2 linked regions of the Homo sapiens genome follow. The protein of the gene in region 2 interacts with the protein of the main gene of each other region in a biochemical or structural test. Each region holds a gene or a part of one and is shown on either strand. Other genes may lie near its edges. The genes, in order: SDHB and CARTPT.

Evidence for each region.
Region 1: the proteins of CARTPT (region 2) and SDHB form a complex in vitro, tested with the Homo sapiens proteins (one study listed by BioGRID).

Annotation. Positions count from the first base shown.
Region 1 is NC_000001.11:17,029,125-17,037,632, forward strand, and holds part of SDHB (succinate dehydrogenase [ubiquinone] iron-sulfur subunit, mitochondrial isoform 1 precursor), read right to left. Parts: intron 4,022-8,508; coding exon 3,936-4,021; intron 1-3,935. UniProt on the Homo sapiens protein: Iron-sulfur protein (IP) subunit of the succinate dehydrogenase complex (mitochondrial respiratory chain complex II), responsible for transferring electrons from succinate to ubiquinone (coenzyme Q).
Region 2 is NC_000005.10:71,713,280-71,721,967, reverse strand, and holds CARTPT (cocaine- and amphetamine-regulated transcript protein preproprotein), read right to left. Parts: upstream 2,694-8,688; 5' UTR 2,675-2,693; coding exon 2,516-2,674; intron 2,089-2,515; coding exon 2,005-2,088; intron 1,461-2,004; coding exon 1,353-1,460; 3' UTR 923-1,352; downstream 1-922. UniProt on the Homo sapiens protein: Satiety factor closely associated with the actions of leptin and neuropeptide Y; this anorectic peptide inhibits both normal and starvation-induced feeding and completely blocks the feeding response induced by neuropeptide Y and regulated by leptin in the hypothalamus.

The sequences.
Region 1 (8,508 bases), on a different chromosome or scaffold from region 2:
AGAAAGGGTCTCACTCTGTCACCCAGGCTGGAGTGCAGTGGTGCAATCACAGCTCACTGCAGTCCTCAATGCCTGAGCTCAAGTGATCCTCCCACCTCAGCCTCCTAAGTAGCTGGGACTACAGAAGTAGCCCACCACACCCAGCTAATTTTCTGGTATTTTTTGTAGAGACGAGACTTGCAGAGACAGGGTTTTGTTATGTTGCCCAGGCTGGGCTTGAACTGCTGGGCTCAAGTAATCTGCCTGCCTTGGCCTCCCGAAGCACTGGGATTACAGGTCTGGGCCACCACACACCCGTCAAGCCTATTTTTTTTTTTTTTCTTTGAGAAGGAGTTTTGCTCTTGTTGCCCAGGCTGGAGTGCAATGCCGCGATCTTGGCTCACTGCAACCTCCGCCTCCCCAGTTCAAGTGATTCTCCTGCCTCAGCCTCCTGAGTAGGGGTGGGTGTGGTGGCTCACGCCTGGAAACCTAGATTTTTTAAAGCCACTGTTATTTGAACACAAATCTAACAGACACAATACCCAAAAGTAAAGTAAATCAACATTGTCTTGGTCATCTTAAGGTTGAAGTGACCTGGATACAGATTATTAAGAGATAGCTCTTCTTCTTTTTTTTTCTTGGCTGAGTCTTGCTGTGTCACCCAGGCTGAAGTACAGTGGTGGAGTCATAGCTCACTGTAGCTCACTTTAGCCTCAAACTTCTGGGCTCAAGCGATCCTCCCACCACAGCCTCCTGAGTAGTTGGGACTACAGGCACATGCCGCCATGTGCGGCGAATTCAAAAAAATTCTTTGTAGGTTGGGTGAAGTGGCTCACACCTGGAATCCCAGCACTTTGGGAGGCTGAGGTGGGCAGATCACTTGAGGTCAGGAGTTCGAGACCAGTTTGGCCAACATGGTAACCCCCTGTCTCTACTAAAAATATAAGTCGTGGTGGGTGCCTGTAATCCCAGCTACTCAGGAGGGTGAGGCGGGAGAATCATTTGAACTGAGGAGGAGAAGGTTGCAGTGAGCAGAGATCGCGCCACTGCACTCCAGCCTGGGTGACAGAGCAAGATTCCATCTCAAAAAAAAGAAAAAAATAATTGTTTTTTGTAGAGCAGGTGTCTCACTATATTGCCCAGGCTGGTCTCTAACTCACGGCCTCAAGTAATCCTTCTGCCTTTGCCTCCCACTGTGTTGGGATTACAGGCCTGAGCCACTACACTTGACAGAGGTAAGGCTTCTTCTATTGTCTTCATAAAATACGCAGCATAGTACCCTGGGGCTATGAAATCCACAAAAGCTGACTCAGCATGGACTTTCCAAAGAGGAGAAGAATGAACTAATATGAAACTGAGGCAAAGCAAAGCAAACTAAACAAAAAACGTGCTGACCCAGGACCCCGACATGAGAATTTTCTTAGCCTGGACCTACTTCCTGTATATGGAAATTTCCTGGGTGTTTTGGAATTTAAAAATGATTATGTACTCTAAACCTCTAGTGCCAGTCCTCTGAAGCTGTTTTTTGAAGATCATTAGGTCAGAGAAACCTGATTGCTTGAGAAAGTTGCACTGGTTATCATCTTTTTTTTTTTTTAGATGGAGTCTTGCTCTGTCGCCCAGGCTGGAGTGCAGTGGCACGATCTCGGCTTACTGCAACCTCTGCCTCCCGGGTTCAAGTGATTCTCCTGCCTCAGCCTCCTGAGTAGCTGGGATTATAGACGCCCGCCACCACACCTGGCTAATTTTTGTATTTTTAGTAGAGACGGGGTTTTACCACGTTGGTCAGGCTGGTCTCGAACTCTGACCTTGTGATCTGCCCGCCTCGGCCTCTGAATGCCTGGCCTCACCTTTTTTTTTTTTTTTTTTAATGGAAAGGGAGTCTATGTTTCCCAGGCTGGTCTTAAACTCCTAGCCTCAAGCTAGCCTACCACCTAGACCTCCCAAAGTACTGGGATCACAGGCGTGAGCCACTGCGCCCAGTCGGTTATCACTTTCATAAGACTAGAAAAGACAGTAAGACTCTCCTTCTCCTGTAAATCTTAGAAAGAGTGTAAGGGAACCCAAAGATGTGTCTTAAGCAAATACTCCTAGAGTTCCCCAAGAGACTGGATATTATCAATACATTTATGTATACCTGGCATCCAACTAGAGCAGTTTGCTTTTACAAGAAATGGCATAAAAATTAAAAAAATAAATCCAATGAACTTTCTCTCAAAAAGGCTCCCTGGGAATTCTCTTACAAGATGGGAATTAAAAAAAAAATAAGAAAAACAAGATGGGAATAAAAAGGAGTAGCAATTGATACAATTCTGCTTTATTTTTTTTAGTCCAGATGGGTCACACCTTATGTTCTTGGTTCTGAAAGAGTCCTACAGGGAAAGGTTACTGAAAAGCATCTACCTTTCCTGTGTTGCCAGGACTTAATGGGGAAGGCTGCTGTTTAACTGCCGCAGAATGTTCCCTGAACAGCAGGACTCAGCCGAACTATCATAATATCCATCAGCATTTGCAACGCTAAATAAGATTAGCTGAATCAAAACAGATGTCTTAAAAGACTTGAAATGCTTGAAATGTACAGCTGAACAGATAAAAAGCCATGGGCCGGTATCAATACTGGCTTTTCCTTTTTTTTTAAGGTTTTCTTAGAAAAAAGCTCAGTGTCCTCACAGAATCAAGCTACTCTCTGCTTTTGTTTTATCCCAGGTGTTCCAAGCCAAGTCAGTGCCTGAGAGAGCAGATCTGGAGTCTGGAGTCTGACAGCTTTGGCTGACTCCCGGCTCTCAAGTCACTCTCTATGTGTCCTTGTGGAAGTCCATTACCCTCTCTGGGCCTCACCTTTAAATTGAAGGTAGATAATAAGCACAGTCATCTACCTCATGTCCAGTGCACAGAACAGAGCCGGGCACACAGTCTGGCTCCACGGACATCAGGCCAGTCGGTCTTCACTGCACCCTGTGCAATTTTTGCTATACCTGAGAACCACCTGAATCAACTTTCTTTAAAGTATCTCTTGGGTTTTCTTTAACTTGTTTTGCTTAAATTCACATTAAAAAACCACTTATATCCCTATTATACCATCATTAGTAATTATATTTTTCTTTTTTTTTTTTTTGAGACTGTCTCGCTCTATTGCCCAGGCTGGAGTGCAGTGGCGTGATCTTGGCTCACTGCAAACTCCACCTCCCGGGTTCCTGCCTCAGCCTCCCGAGTAGCCAGGATTACAGGCGTCCGCTATCACGCCCGGCTAATTTTTGTATTTTTAGTAGAGACAAGGTTTCACCATGTTGGCCAGGTTGATCTCGAACTCCTGACGCCAGCTGATCCACCCGCCTCGGCCTCCCAAAGTGCTGGGATTACAGGTGTGAGCCACCGCACCCGGCAGTAATTATATTTTTCTAATACAGAAAATGAATACATTGCTATTCATGTAGAAAATGTTAGTCTGCACACTGCCTCAAATGGGCTCATGTGGCACCAGCAGCACAAGTAACCACATGCTGAGGGAGACACTGTACCAGCCAATCCAGAACACAGCTACCAAGGACATGTCATGCTGGGAGCTGAGGGAGACTCACACATCTCCCCTGCTGGACAAGCATAAGTGCCAGACAGAAACTCTCCACTGCTCCCTTAATAAAAGAGCTCAGCAGCATGGAAGGTGCCAGCCAGCAGGTCCTAGCTAGGCCTTGAAGCGTGGAGCAGCTCACAGGGACCGCCAGATGCAGTAACCACAGGATAGAATGCTCCTGAAGGAAAGTAAACTCAGAAACCAGAACTTGCACCATGGTTAGAATTTTGGATGCATTTACCCAAGAAAAGGAATTAGGTTGCACAGCAAGTTCACCCAGCAGAGAGCTGCAGCTGTTTTCCAGATGTCTCTATCAGCTTTGGCCAGCCCAAGCCTCTTTGGAAGACCACAAGTATCTGGAGCCCAACAGGAATGAAATGCTCACCTTCTCTGCATGATCTTCGGAAGGTCAAAGTAGAGTCAACTTCATTCTTAATCTTGATTAAAGCATCCAATACCATGGGGCCACATCTAACAAAGAAAAATATCCAGTGGTATTTATGTAACGTTCAACCTCCCTACACTTTATCATAATATAATCGGAGACACCTGGATGTATTAGCTTATCCATTTGGTCTTCTCAGGTCACCTTCGGAATTTGTTCTGTAGTTTTGTTTTTGCAGATTCTTACATTTTAAGTACTGCACAGTTCTATTTTGATGATCACAGTGCAAACACATTTCTAGGAAATGGAAAGCTAAAGTAGTAGTAGACAAGTATGACACAACTTCCATACAGTGGCCGAGTTTTTGTTTTTTACTTCTGAAGCTCCCTGCAAAGTTTTTCCAAATAATTTATTTCAAATTTTAGTTTGATTTTTAGGATGTAGACAATAGTTTTAAATAGTAATTAATAATACATAACCATAAGAGAAGACATAGTACAGAGAATAAAAGACACCCAATCACTCACAGTCCCCCAGTCAAATCACTGTGAGCCTCCTAGAACATACAAGGGCAGTGACATGGTACTAAGCGGAGCATCCCTGGGCGTGGGACCTGGAGTGCCGGCCTGGCAGCCAAGAGACTGGTCTGCACCATGGCTGAGCCACTTACCAGCTTGCAGGCAAATGATTTAATTTCTGCCTAGGCATTTAATCCACTGAGTGCAGAGAGCAGCACCTGCATCCCACAGGATTGCTGGAGGTGAGTTAATACACACGAGATCTTTACAGCAGCATCTGACATATAAATCATAGTTTAACTATAATAATCATCATGCAGAAACTGTGATTCTACGGAAATTACTCTCTGAACCTCAGTTTATCTGTAGAGTTAATATTTACACCACAGGGTTACTGTGAAAATTACATAAAAATATGTAATTTTTCATAGTACCTGGCATACAGTAAGTGCTCCACAAATCTATTTTCTGGTTGCCACCCTGCCCCCATTCCACTCACTAATTTTCTATGCATGAGATTAAAAATATACTTAAAAATACGTCATTTCCTTTAGTACTATCTGTATTTCATTTTTTTTCTTTTTTTTCTTGAGACGGGGTCTTGCTCTGTTACCCAGGCTGGAGTGCAGTGGCACGATCTCAGATCTGTAACCTCCGCATCCCAGCCTCAAGAGATCCTCCTGCCTCAGCCCCCCAGTAGCTGGGACTACAGGTATGTGCCACCACATCCAGCTTAATTTTTGTATTTTTTTGTAGAGGTGGGATTTCGCCATGTTGCCCAGGCTGGTCTCTAACTCCTGGACTCAAGTGATCCTCCTGCCTTGGATTCTCAAAGTGTTGGGATTATGGGTGTGAGGCAATGGTGCGATCTCGGCTCACTGCAACCTCTACCTTCCGGGTTCAAGCGATTCTCCTGCCTCAGCCTCCCGAGTAGCTGGGATTACAGGTGCATGCCACCACACCCGGCAAATTTTTGTATTTTTAGTAGAGATAGGTTTTCCCATGTTGGCCAGGCTGGTCTCAAACTCCTGACCTCAAGTGATCCACCTGCCTCAGCCTTCCCAAATGCTGGGATTACAGGTGTGAGCGACTGCGTCTGGCCCATTATCTGTATTTGTATCAGCACTATGTAGACGTCCTTTCTGCTGGACCTCTGCTAACACTGGGAATTGGAAGCTTTAAAAACCTTTGCTATTCTGATACTGGAGAAGTGTTATTGTTTTCAGTGTTTTAAATCGAGACTTTTGAATACTACATAGGTTGAATGTTTGTCATAAATTTACTAATTTTTCTTTATTTCCCAATTATTTATTGAACATTTACTCTGCCAGGTTCTGTTCTAGATGCTGGGGATGTAGCAGAGAATAAAAGAGACGAATACCACCTGCCCGCACAAAGCTCTGTTCCAGAGGACTCATTCTAGAGACTCAGTCTGTCCACATTCTTTGCCTCTGTTTACCAGGGTCTTGGAAATTCTTTTTCATGATCTGAGGCTCTTATATATTATATCTGTTGCCATTTCTGCTTCCTCCCTCACTGCCAATAGTAATGTGCTATTTGACTTCTAATTTTGGTAACAGAATTTTAAACATACATGAGTTAAATGTTTACATTAATAAAGGTGGCTATTCTTTCTTTTATAACATTATCTATCACTTTTAAGCCTAAACAGACCACTGCCCTTCCTGAGGTCTGATAAATACTTTACATTTTTTTCTACTTAAAAAAAATTTTAAGTTACTCCCCTAAAACTGCAAAAACTGTATCAGTTGTCCCAAATCACTGACTAAATCCTCTTTTGCTTCTTATTTGTAATACCTTTCTCCCATATTTAATACTGGGAACTTAGATAAAATTGAGTCTGTTTTGTTGCTACATTTTTATTCTAATGATCTGCCTGTTCTTGTCCTAGCATATTTTAAATGACAACAACATCTTTGTTTTTTTTACATTACAAAGGCTAATATTTGCAGCCTATAAAAATTTCAAATTGGCCAGGTGGGTGGCTCACGCCTGTAATCCCAGCACTTTGGGAGGCACTTTGGGAGGCCTTGGCGGGTGGATCATGAGGTCAGGAGATTGAGACCATCCTGGCTAACGTGGTGAAACCGTCTCTACTAAAAATACAAAAAATTAGCTGGGTGTGGTTGCACGTGCCTGTAGTCCCAATTACTTGGGAGGCTGAGGCAGGAAAATTGCTTGAACCCCAGAGGCGGAGGTTGCAGTGAGCCGAGACCGCACCACTGCACTCCAGCCTGGGAGACAGAGCGAGACTGTCTCAAAAAAATAAATAAATAAATAGATAAATAAATAAATAAATTCAAATCAAAGGTAAAAAGTAATCCTGCAGATCATACTGGGACAGAGAAAAATATTAAAAAGTCAAAGTCCTCTCTTTAAGCTGTTTCATGCTAAATTTCCTAATAGGTAGGGCTCATTAAAGAGTACAACATAAATTTTCTCAGATTTTACATAGATACCAAAATTGTTTGATATTCTGGGTCCCTTGCATTTCTATAAGATTTTTAGAATCAACTTGTCAACTTCTGCAGAAAAGGCAGGTGGGATTTTGATGGGGATTGCAATGAATCTGGAAATCAATTTGGAGACCACTGCCTCCTTAACAACATTAAGTCTTCCAACCCACAAACAGGGCATGTCTTTCCATTTATTTATGTCTTCTTAAATTTCTTTCAACAATGTTTTACAGTTTTTCAGCATATAAGTCTTTTACTTATTTGATTTTTGAGACAGGATCTCACTCTGTCGCCCAGGCTGGATGGAGTGCAGTGTTGTGATCACAGCTCACTGCAGGTTTGACCTCCCAGGCTCAAGTGATTCTCCCACCTCAGCCTCCAAGTAGCTGGGACTATAGGCACAGGAAGGTCATCAAGCCCAGCTAACTTTTTTTGTAGAGATGGGGTTTTGTCTTATTGCCCATATAATTTGTTCCTAAGAATTTCTTTTTTGATGCTGTTATATGGAAAATAGTTTTTAAATTTCATTTTAGGATTGTTCATTGCTAGTGTATAGAAATCCAATTTTTGTTTTTTTAACAGTACTTACAGGCTTTTTTCTAGGTAAGCAGGGTTTTACATATATAAATATAAATATTTATATAAATATGAATATATAAATATAAATATTTATATAAATATGAATATATAAATATAAATATTTATATAAATATGAATATATAAATATAAATACATATATAAATATATATGTATACACACACACACACACATTTTTTCTGTAGAGACTAAGTCTTGCTATTGTTGCCCAGGCTGGTCTCAAAACTCCTGGCCTCAAGCAATCCTCCTGCCTTGGCCTCACAAAGAAAGTGCTAGTATTACAAGTGTGAGCCACCATGCCTAGCCTAGAAAAATACATTTATCTGCTAATATCTGCTACACGCCAGTATTTTCAGAAAAAGAATTATGCTGTTGTGAAAATGAAAGAATATAGCTATTTTTTGTGTGTGTATACATAGCTACAAAGTAGGGTTTCAGAGTCGGATTAGAAGGAAATAGAACTATAATTAAAACATGGTACAATATAAAATGAAGACTGACAGACATAGGTTGAAATAAACATGGACAAATTATGCATAATAAAAAACTAAACTACATTTGATTTCTGTATACCAGTTTTGTGTCCTCCAACCTTGCTGAATTTGTTCATTAGTTCTAATAGTTCCTAGGGGGCAATGTCTTATATTTTCTTTTCTTTTTTTTTTTTGAGACAGCGTCTCCCTCTGTTGCCCAGGCTGGAGTGTAGGGCATGGAATCATGGCTCACTGCAGCCTCGACCTCCTGGGTTCAAGTGATCCTCCCACCCCACCCTCCCAAGTAGCTCGGACTACAGGAGTGTGCCACCACACCTGGCAAATTTTTTGAGACACAGTCTTGCTCTGTTGCCCAGGCTGGAGTGCAGTGGCGTGATCTTGGCTCACTGCAACCTCTGCCACCTAGGTTCAAGCAATTCTTGTGCCTTAGCCTTCCAAGAAGCTGGGATTACAGGTGTGTGCTACCATGCCTGGCTAATTTTTGTAT
Region 2 (8,688 bases):
TAATAATAATCACACTGAAAATGGTAACTGTGTATAAGAATATTTTCTATCAGAAAACTCCCTATGAATCCGTGGAGGGGCTTTATTTTTCAATTCTGCTATTATGCAAGTGCCTCTTGAGTTTGGATTAGGAAGCTGTTAACATTTATTTCTCTCATGATGCTGCTACTTAGATGTTACTTAGTCTGGTTTAAACCCTTGGAAATGTGACCTCAAATAAGCACTCAGAAATATTTAAAAGCTACTTAACTTTACATTTAATATGTTTTAATTTCTTGAGTTGAATTCTCACCTCCTCCAATTTTTATTTGTTCCCCTCAAAACTATTTTCTGAAATGACTCTTTCTCCTGGAATAGAGAATTTTTTCCAAGAGTGTGAATTTACTTGTGGGAATGAATGGGTCTTATAACCTTGGAGTCTTTAGACAAATAACAACCCTAAACAGCCCATATCTTTAAATCAATGTATATTTTCTAATAAGGGAGTTGTCAAAACAAAATTTCTAATTTTTCAAATTGCTTTTAATGTGACTAAAACATGAAACTGTTTATAGTTTATTGGTCTCACTGTTTAAAGTAAAGGGTCTGGCTAAAGGTTTTAATAAACAAAATTATATAACCTCAACTCCAACCATCTCCATCTCATTCATCTCTCTCTTTCTCTCTCTCTCTCTCACACACACACACACACACACATACACACACACATACACACACCACATCGCTGCAATCAAAGAAAAATAGAGTATACTAAAACTGGCTTGGCAAACTTCTAATTAACGATCAAAACTCCTTGGAGCTAAGGTGCCATTTTCCCAATAGGCTGCTATTTTTAAAATATTTTTCTTTGAAAACAACAGCATGATTAATCTCACCATTTCCACTTAAATTACTTATATGAAAACAGCAGTGCACTATGGGCAATTATTAAAAACACTTTATTATGTATAATTTGTACATGCTTCAATTTGTGTCACTTAGGGTGATTTATTTTCCAGGTTGTAATGACATCTACCGAGATTAGCTAGATCTAATTTTCATTCTGCCATGCCACATACAAAAATACAATTTTCAAACAAAGCTTCCCTTCTTTACACAAAGGTACACAAGAGTTTGTCAGACAAATAAAATAAGAATACTTCACACACGTATCAACACCATACAAGGCATTATTCTTCACACAGTAACATCTAATGTGTTCTTTTATTTTTGAAACAGCAGGAAAAGAGCCCTTTCCCTTCAGAGGAAAATAAAAACTTTATCTGTTGCTTAAGCCAAACTCCAGGGAGGAAGGTGTGGTCCTCTGGGGAAAGTAGAGGGATGGGGATGTATGGAGGAGAATGGACGCCCCTTCATAAGCACTTCAGGAGGAAGGAATTGCAGGAGGTTCCTCGGGGACAGTCACACAGCTTCCCGATCCTTGCCCCTTTCCTCACTGCACACTGCTCACCGGCGTCACACTGAAACAACAAAATGTGTGGTCATCGAGTATGAACAAACCCAGGTTCCCAACAGGCAAGTCTCACAGTCAACGCAATTTCTGTCTCTTGAAAGGGGCAATTGGACCCCATCACCATCACAAGAGGTCTACGTACAGTCAGATCTGAAACAGGGAGCCTTGTGCTTATAACCTCAGTGAGAGTACATTTTTTAAAGAAACTTACATTATTAGTTTTATCCTAGTTTCTTCCACCTTTAAGTGGCGAGGGTTGGGGGGCGTGGGAAGGGGAGCATCACATTTCCTGGCTCCTTTTCTTGCCCTCTCAGAGGGGAAAAAAATCAGACCTTTTTCCTGAGCAACAAACAATAGACTTACACTTTCTTACAACCCCTGTTCCTGCTTTCCCATTTCCTCACCCGGGAAGGAAGAAGGAGCCCACAGAATCCTGCAAGCCCATTACCTAAGTTATTTAGCCACATCCTACGGAGAAGACTGTGTGTACGATTCAAGGCGGTGTACTTTCTCTTGGAAAAACACGGGAAGGGAGTGACCACAAACCTTACCATGGGGACTTGGCCATACTTCTTCTCATAGATGGGAACACGTTTACTCTTGAGCTTCTTCAAGACTTCTTGCAGCGCTTCGATCTGCAACACACCGCTTCGGAGCCTGAAGTTGCCGCCTTGGCTGCGAGCCCAGCCCAGGTGCGCACTTCCAGCCCTAGTTATAAGGAGCCCCGGACCCACACGCACTCTGCGGTGGGACTCCGCGGACACAGGGAATGGTCGAGGGGTGGAAACTTAGCGGACGCTGTCCCAGGTACTGACCGCGGGTCTCTGAGCCGCTGGGGTCCCTGTTGCTCAGAGGGGCCGGGATGAGGGATTCGCTCAACAGACTGCCAGGAGCCCGTGAGCTCGAGACGCTCTTCGGATGGCAGTGGGTGCCTGGGCGTTGCGCTCAGCTCCCCGCGCCCTGACTCTGGGAATAGGAGTGGGGGTGGGGGGAGGAGGGAGGCGTGCAAGAGAAGAGACAAGGCGACAGCTCAAGGGGGTCGAGAGCGAGGGGAATACCGACCAGCTCCTTCTCGTGGGAGGCATCATCCACGGCAGAGTAGATGTCCAGGGCTCGGGGCTGGAGCTCGGCGTCCTCCTGGGCACGGGTACCCAACAGAGGTAGCATCAGCAGCAGGGCGGCGCCCAGGAGGGGCAGCAGCCTCACGCGGGAGCTCTCCATCGTTCTGAAACTCGTCGTTGCTGGGGCACCACGCGCTCCCACCTTTTATAGTGAGCCCGAGCCCCCGTGCAGGAAAGAGGGAGGAGGCGAAGAAGGAAGGGGGTGTGGAGGAGGGCCCGGGTCAACCGTCTGTAGGCAGCGCTCCGCCGGCGCTTGACGTCAATGCCCGCCGGGTTCCAGGCGCCTGGGAACGAGGCTCTGCGCACAGATGGGCTAGAGCGCAGAGAACAGGACCCTGCGCCCCCAAAGGCTGTCAGTCTCACGGCAAGGGATGCTCCCCGAGGGGCCTGAGCTGAAGCCGAGGGGCTAGAGGTGAGGGACGGGAAGCGGGAGGGGCCTAGGAAATGGAAAATGCCTTCGGGTCAATGCACAGGCAGGAGAGTCGTTTCCCAACACCTAGCAGTGGTGACAGCTGCAACATCCACCTCGCCAGCCCTGCCTTGCCTCGCACCCCAACCCCAAGTGTGGCGGTGAGAAGGGGGTGTTGCCTCCAGACAGCCACATTTGCTGAGCACCTTACTCTGTGGGGTAGGGGAAGCAAACATACTATACAAAAGAAAGAGAAATAGTGGCCCTCCACGTGATGGGTTCTATGATGGAATCTGTGTGACAATAGTTAAAAGAAGAGAGGGAAAACAGACAAACCCGGATTCAGCAGTGGTGTTGGAAGTGCAGAGAGCCAGGCTCTGGTTCCCATCCTGGCTACACCACGTAAAAGTTGTATGACTTTGAACAAAATGAAGAACCTCTCCAAGCCTCAGCTTTCTCTTTTGTAGATCTAGGATTAAAAAGATATACCTCACAAAGTCATCAGTAGGATGAAATGAGAGATTAAGTATGTCAAACTCCTGGTTCTTAGCTAAGCTTCCCTGTCCCTCCTTTTTGAACTTTGAGGCTGCCCAGGCAAATTTAACCATCCCCAGAACCTCCCCCCACCCACCACCAACCCTTGGTATCCAAGAAGCCTGTCTAGAAAGAGAGTAAAAGAGTGAAAAGAAAGACAGCTCCATGATTATGAAAATATCTCCAGAGATCAGAAGTCAATGGTGAACCAGCTCCCCAACAACTTGGGAGAACAATGTGGCTTTTTTAAAAGTTGAGATCCTTACAGCCTGAATGCACAGGAAAATTCCTGTAGGAAAAGCAATGCTTTCCCGCTTAGACCTGCTTGCTCACCTGGCTTCCTTCACCACACCATCTTTCCCTCAACTGTTCCTAAATTCATCCACTCTTCTCCATCCCCATTACTACAACCCAGTCCTAGACAGCTGCCCCAGTCAACTTAATGTCTACCACTTAATCCCCACCCTATCTTCTCTTGCCTTCCTCTACTCCATAGTTCACCACCAACCAGAGTATTTTTCCCCTTAAAATACACTAATGACTCCTAATCTTACTAAGCACTGAATCTAGATTCCTCATCCTGACTTGCAAAGCATTATATGATCTTCACCCCTCTCCACCTCATGTTCTACCACTCTGCCCCAGACTCCTCCACTCCAACCTCACATGGCCTTCTTTCTGGTCCTCTAGCAGGCCAATCTCATTCATACTTTGATGTCTTTGCACTTACCCCTCCTTGAAAGGTCTTCCTGTATTTCCAAAAGGCTCACTACTTCTGTTATTTAAATCTCAGTGTAAATATCTATGACTACTCAATCCAAACCATCTATCAATACTTTTCTCCCACAAATTTATTGCATAGCAGATTATGTGGGTCATTAAGATAGTTTAATACACAATATATGCCTGGTTACTTCAACTATCAAGTATTTAATTGGTACTCAAATACTCACTGGGAAGCAATTCAAGAAGTGATATCTCTTCTAATGAATAGCACACATATTAACAGCATCAAAATATTTTGCTGTGGGGTAAACCCAACTTGAAAATGTATCTAACACCTCCCTCAGCTCTGCCTTCCACACATACCTTTTGATTCTGCACAAGAAAACTTCAGTGGCAGCACGTTTTACTGTTAAAACCTTACAGAGACATATTGACACTCACTGCAAAAACCATCTCCAGTGATCTTTAAACTATTCTAAGCTTCAGAAGAAAAATAATCTCAAATAAGATTTTAGCCTATTCTTCCTGAAGGATGTAGATATTGTCAATGCAATACTTTCTCTCCAATTTTGTTCTACCCAGACACAAGTAATAACTTTCCCTTTGTGCTACTTCTATTGGAAAAAAATCCAAAGTTTAAATCTTGCTGAACTTGAGTTGGTGCTATCATTTTCTTATAAGGAAGGCACATTTAGTTAAGGGGTTAGGGAAAGGACTCTTGGAAAATCCTGTGAAACAAGCCAGGGGCATCTTTGTCACTTACATACCACAGGCTTTTCTTCATCTTGAACAGAATGACTTTATAAACTGTCTTTAGCTAGCATGGTATAGTAAATTCTAGGCTATCTTCTTCCCAAAGACAACTTTTATGTAAGTTAAAACTCAAAAAGAAACAAAAGCATGAGACATTCCACAGTCTTCATATTATGCCCTGTTAGGAGAATTTGTATATTCTTACTACTTTGTAATGACTCCATTAGGGGAAAAAAGCCCATCACTGATGCCCCAAGCAATTAAAATCATATGGAATTTAACTACTACTTCTCACCCCAGATATAGAAAAGGGAGGCAGGTCACCTCATGAAAGAGAAGCAATGGCCAGGATGGGTCTTTGGAGATTTAATGTGAACAAATCTCTCTTAATCATCTTTTCTGAGATAGAGTAGGCCTCCAGTCCTGCTCTTTGAAATAGCTCAAGTAAAGAAATCTCATAAGCAGACAGCCAAGAAACCAGTGCCAGCAAGATCTACTTACAACATACTGCTATCTGAGAACATTTTAAAAACCTCTTCTTACTCATGCCTAACTCTTGGAGTCCTGAACTTTTCACTATAAAAATAACCCATCAATTGATTTGTGACTTGGCAAGAAAACGATGTCTGTATTGTTCTTGGAAAAAAGAAAACACACACACACACCCCTTAAAACATATGTGTTCAATATTACTAAATTAGAACCCTAGAGCCCTAAGATTTTAAGTAATGAGAAGGTCATGGCAGAATTTAACACCACAGTGATGTTTTTTCCTAAGCTTTAGTATTTCTCTCTCCCTTCCTTTCTCCTTCAGTTGTGAATAATTTCTGTTCCTATGTAACTCAGAATAACACTGGCCTCTTAGGTTGTCGTATTTCCCAAATATCAGACTACTTTGTTAACCATTAACCCTCCTCTCCCATCCCTCACCCCAACCAAGTCTTGTTCAACAGTAAAACATCCTCAATTTCAGCGAGGTGCAGTGGCTTACACCTGTAATCCTAACACTTTGGAAGGCCGAGGCAAGAGGATTATTTGAGCTCAAAAGTTCAAGACCAGTCTGGTCTGGCTGGGCACAATGGCTCACGCCCGTAATCCCAGCACTTTGGGAGGCCAAGGCAGGTGGATCACCTGAGGTCAGGAGTTTGAGATCAGCCTGGCCAACATGGCAAAACCCCATCTCTACTAAAAATACACAAATTAGCCAGGTGTGGTGGCATGCACCTGTAATCCCAGCTACTTGGGAGGCTGAGGCAGGAGAATTACTTGAACCCAGCAGGGCAGAGATTGCAGTGAGCTGAGATCACACCACTACACTCCAGCCTAGGTGACAAAGCGAGGCTCTGTCTCAAAAACAAAACAAAACAAAACAAAACAAAAAAACAGTCTGGTCAACATGGTGAAACCACATATCTACAAAAGAAAAAAAAAAAGAAAAGAAAAAAAAAATTAGTCAGAAGTGGTGGCACATGCCTGTAGTCCCAGCTACTCAGGAGGCTGAGGTAGGAGGATTAATTGGGCTCAAGAAGTTGAGGTTGCAATGAGCCATGATCACACCACCACTGCACTCCAGCTTGGGTGACAAAGTGAGCCCCTGTGACAAAAATAAAATAAAAATTTAAAATTTCAATTTAAATTTTGGTAAGTCCTCAGTTTTATTGACTTCCTAAATATTCATATTTAAGACTGTTTCTCCTTATTTGTGTTAGTTGCACTTTCCTCCAAGTTAAACATCACTCTGTTCTCTTTGGTACACATATGCAATCTCTTGGGTGACTTTTTTTCATTTCTACATTGTTTGCTCTCCACTCTTCCTCCCTGCAGAAGAGAGATTAATTCCCATTGACATTTATGTTCTGTTTACTTCCAAGCCATAGCCTTCCAAAGGAACTGCTATTCACTGTGTTCTAACTAAACATCTTTATCACTATCTGAAAGAAAATAATCTGTAAGTAAAGGACACTTGGAGTCGGTTCTAAATTGGGAGGGGTGGAGATGCAGTAGCAAAGAACATGTGCTTTACAGACTGCTTCTGAAGGAGCAAAGCAGGCGAAATTAAACAAAGCTTTTCAGTCAATTTTTTAAGCTTCCAATTGAAAAGCTTTCCATTTCAAGACTTAATTTTAAAATCTGGGTGCCCTATATGCTCACAACTCTGCTAAGTATTTTGAGGACTGCTGAGATAATCCAGACACTTCTTGCCTTGAGGATCTTTGGGTCTAGTCATTTGTGCCCACGTCCACAAACTCCTAAAATACAATGACTTAGTGAGATGAGGGTCCTACTAGAGAAAGAGGAGCCCAGAGAAGTCAGAGATTCATTGCCACAAGAGGGAATCTTCGTGAAAAAGGGGCATCCTTTGAATGAGCTACTGAGTCCTAGGGGATGGGTAGAATTCCAACAATAGCAAACATCCCACTCTGGGACCTTGGGGGCGGGCAGGCAGCAAAGTCAAGTCATCAAGGTAGGAGATCTGGGGAGCACTGAGTGCTCTGGGTTGCTGGAGAGCAGGGTGCATGGGAATGTGAGAGACGGGGAAGCATAATGGGAAACAAGCCTGAAAAGGAACTTTGGAGCACAAAAAGAAAATCCAGAGTGGCAATAGATAGTTCCAAATTTGGATCCAATAAACAGGTGGTAGGAGCACAGATGAACCCAAAAGATTTCATTTTTCAAATACTAAAAACAAGCTTTTAACCTAAAGGTCTAGCCTGAGAAAAGTGGTCCTTTTCAGATATAGGGAGATAGCACTGACCAAGAGATAGATTGTTTCCTAGGACAAGGAAACATTTATCTGGATCCCAGCACAGCACACCTTGTTGGAGTGCGGCAGGGGTGGCATGCCAAAACCACACTTTACATGCCACCGCTAACACCATCTTCTCCTCTAACTTTTCCAGATCCAGATCTCCTAAGCTTACAGAAAGTGTAAAACTAGCACTAAAGCAGCTGATTAGAATACCCAAGAAATTAACTATATGACTTAATAGGGAGCAATTTTGAATCATTCAGTGATTGTTCATTGTCTATAGGTTCAAGTCAACTTCTCAGCATGGTGTTGAAGTTTCTTATAATATGGCTCTGGCCATATTTCTAATCTCATTTTTCTCTGCTCCCAACCAGTTCCATCAGATATATTTTACTTTGTAGGTACATCAGCCTTATTTCTTAATTTTGCACCGAATTTACTAGGTTATGCTGCTACAACAAACAACTCCCAAATCTTGGTGACTTAAAAAATATGCAGTTATATTTCTCACTCGTGTCCCATGTGCATCAAGAATTGATGGAGTGTTCTATTCATCGTCACTCAGGGATCCAGACTGACAGACCATCTACCATCTCTAAAGTGGCTAATTTTGTTCCAAATGGAAAAAAGAGTTTGTTCTATTCATCGTCACTCAGGGACCCAGACTGACAGATCATCCACCATCTCTAAAGTGGCTAATTTTGTTCCAAATGGAAAAAAGAGTTCTGGACAGTCTTTAATGAACAACTAAAAGCTTTGACTCATAAGTGATACTTCACTTTTCCTTCCAACTCATTAGCCTGAAGTAATCACACAGCTCCACCAAAGTCAAAAGGACTAAGAATTACAGTGTTAACAAGTACCTAGAATGCAAACATTATGGAACAACACTAATGACTACACATGTGTCTGCCTTTGTTCATGCCCTTTCCTAGTCCTCGAA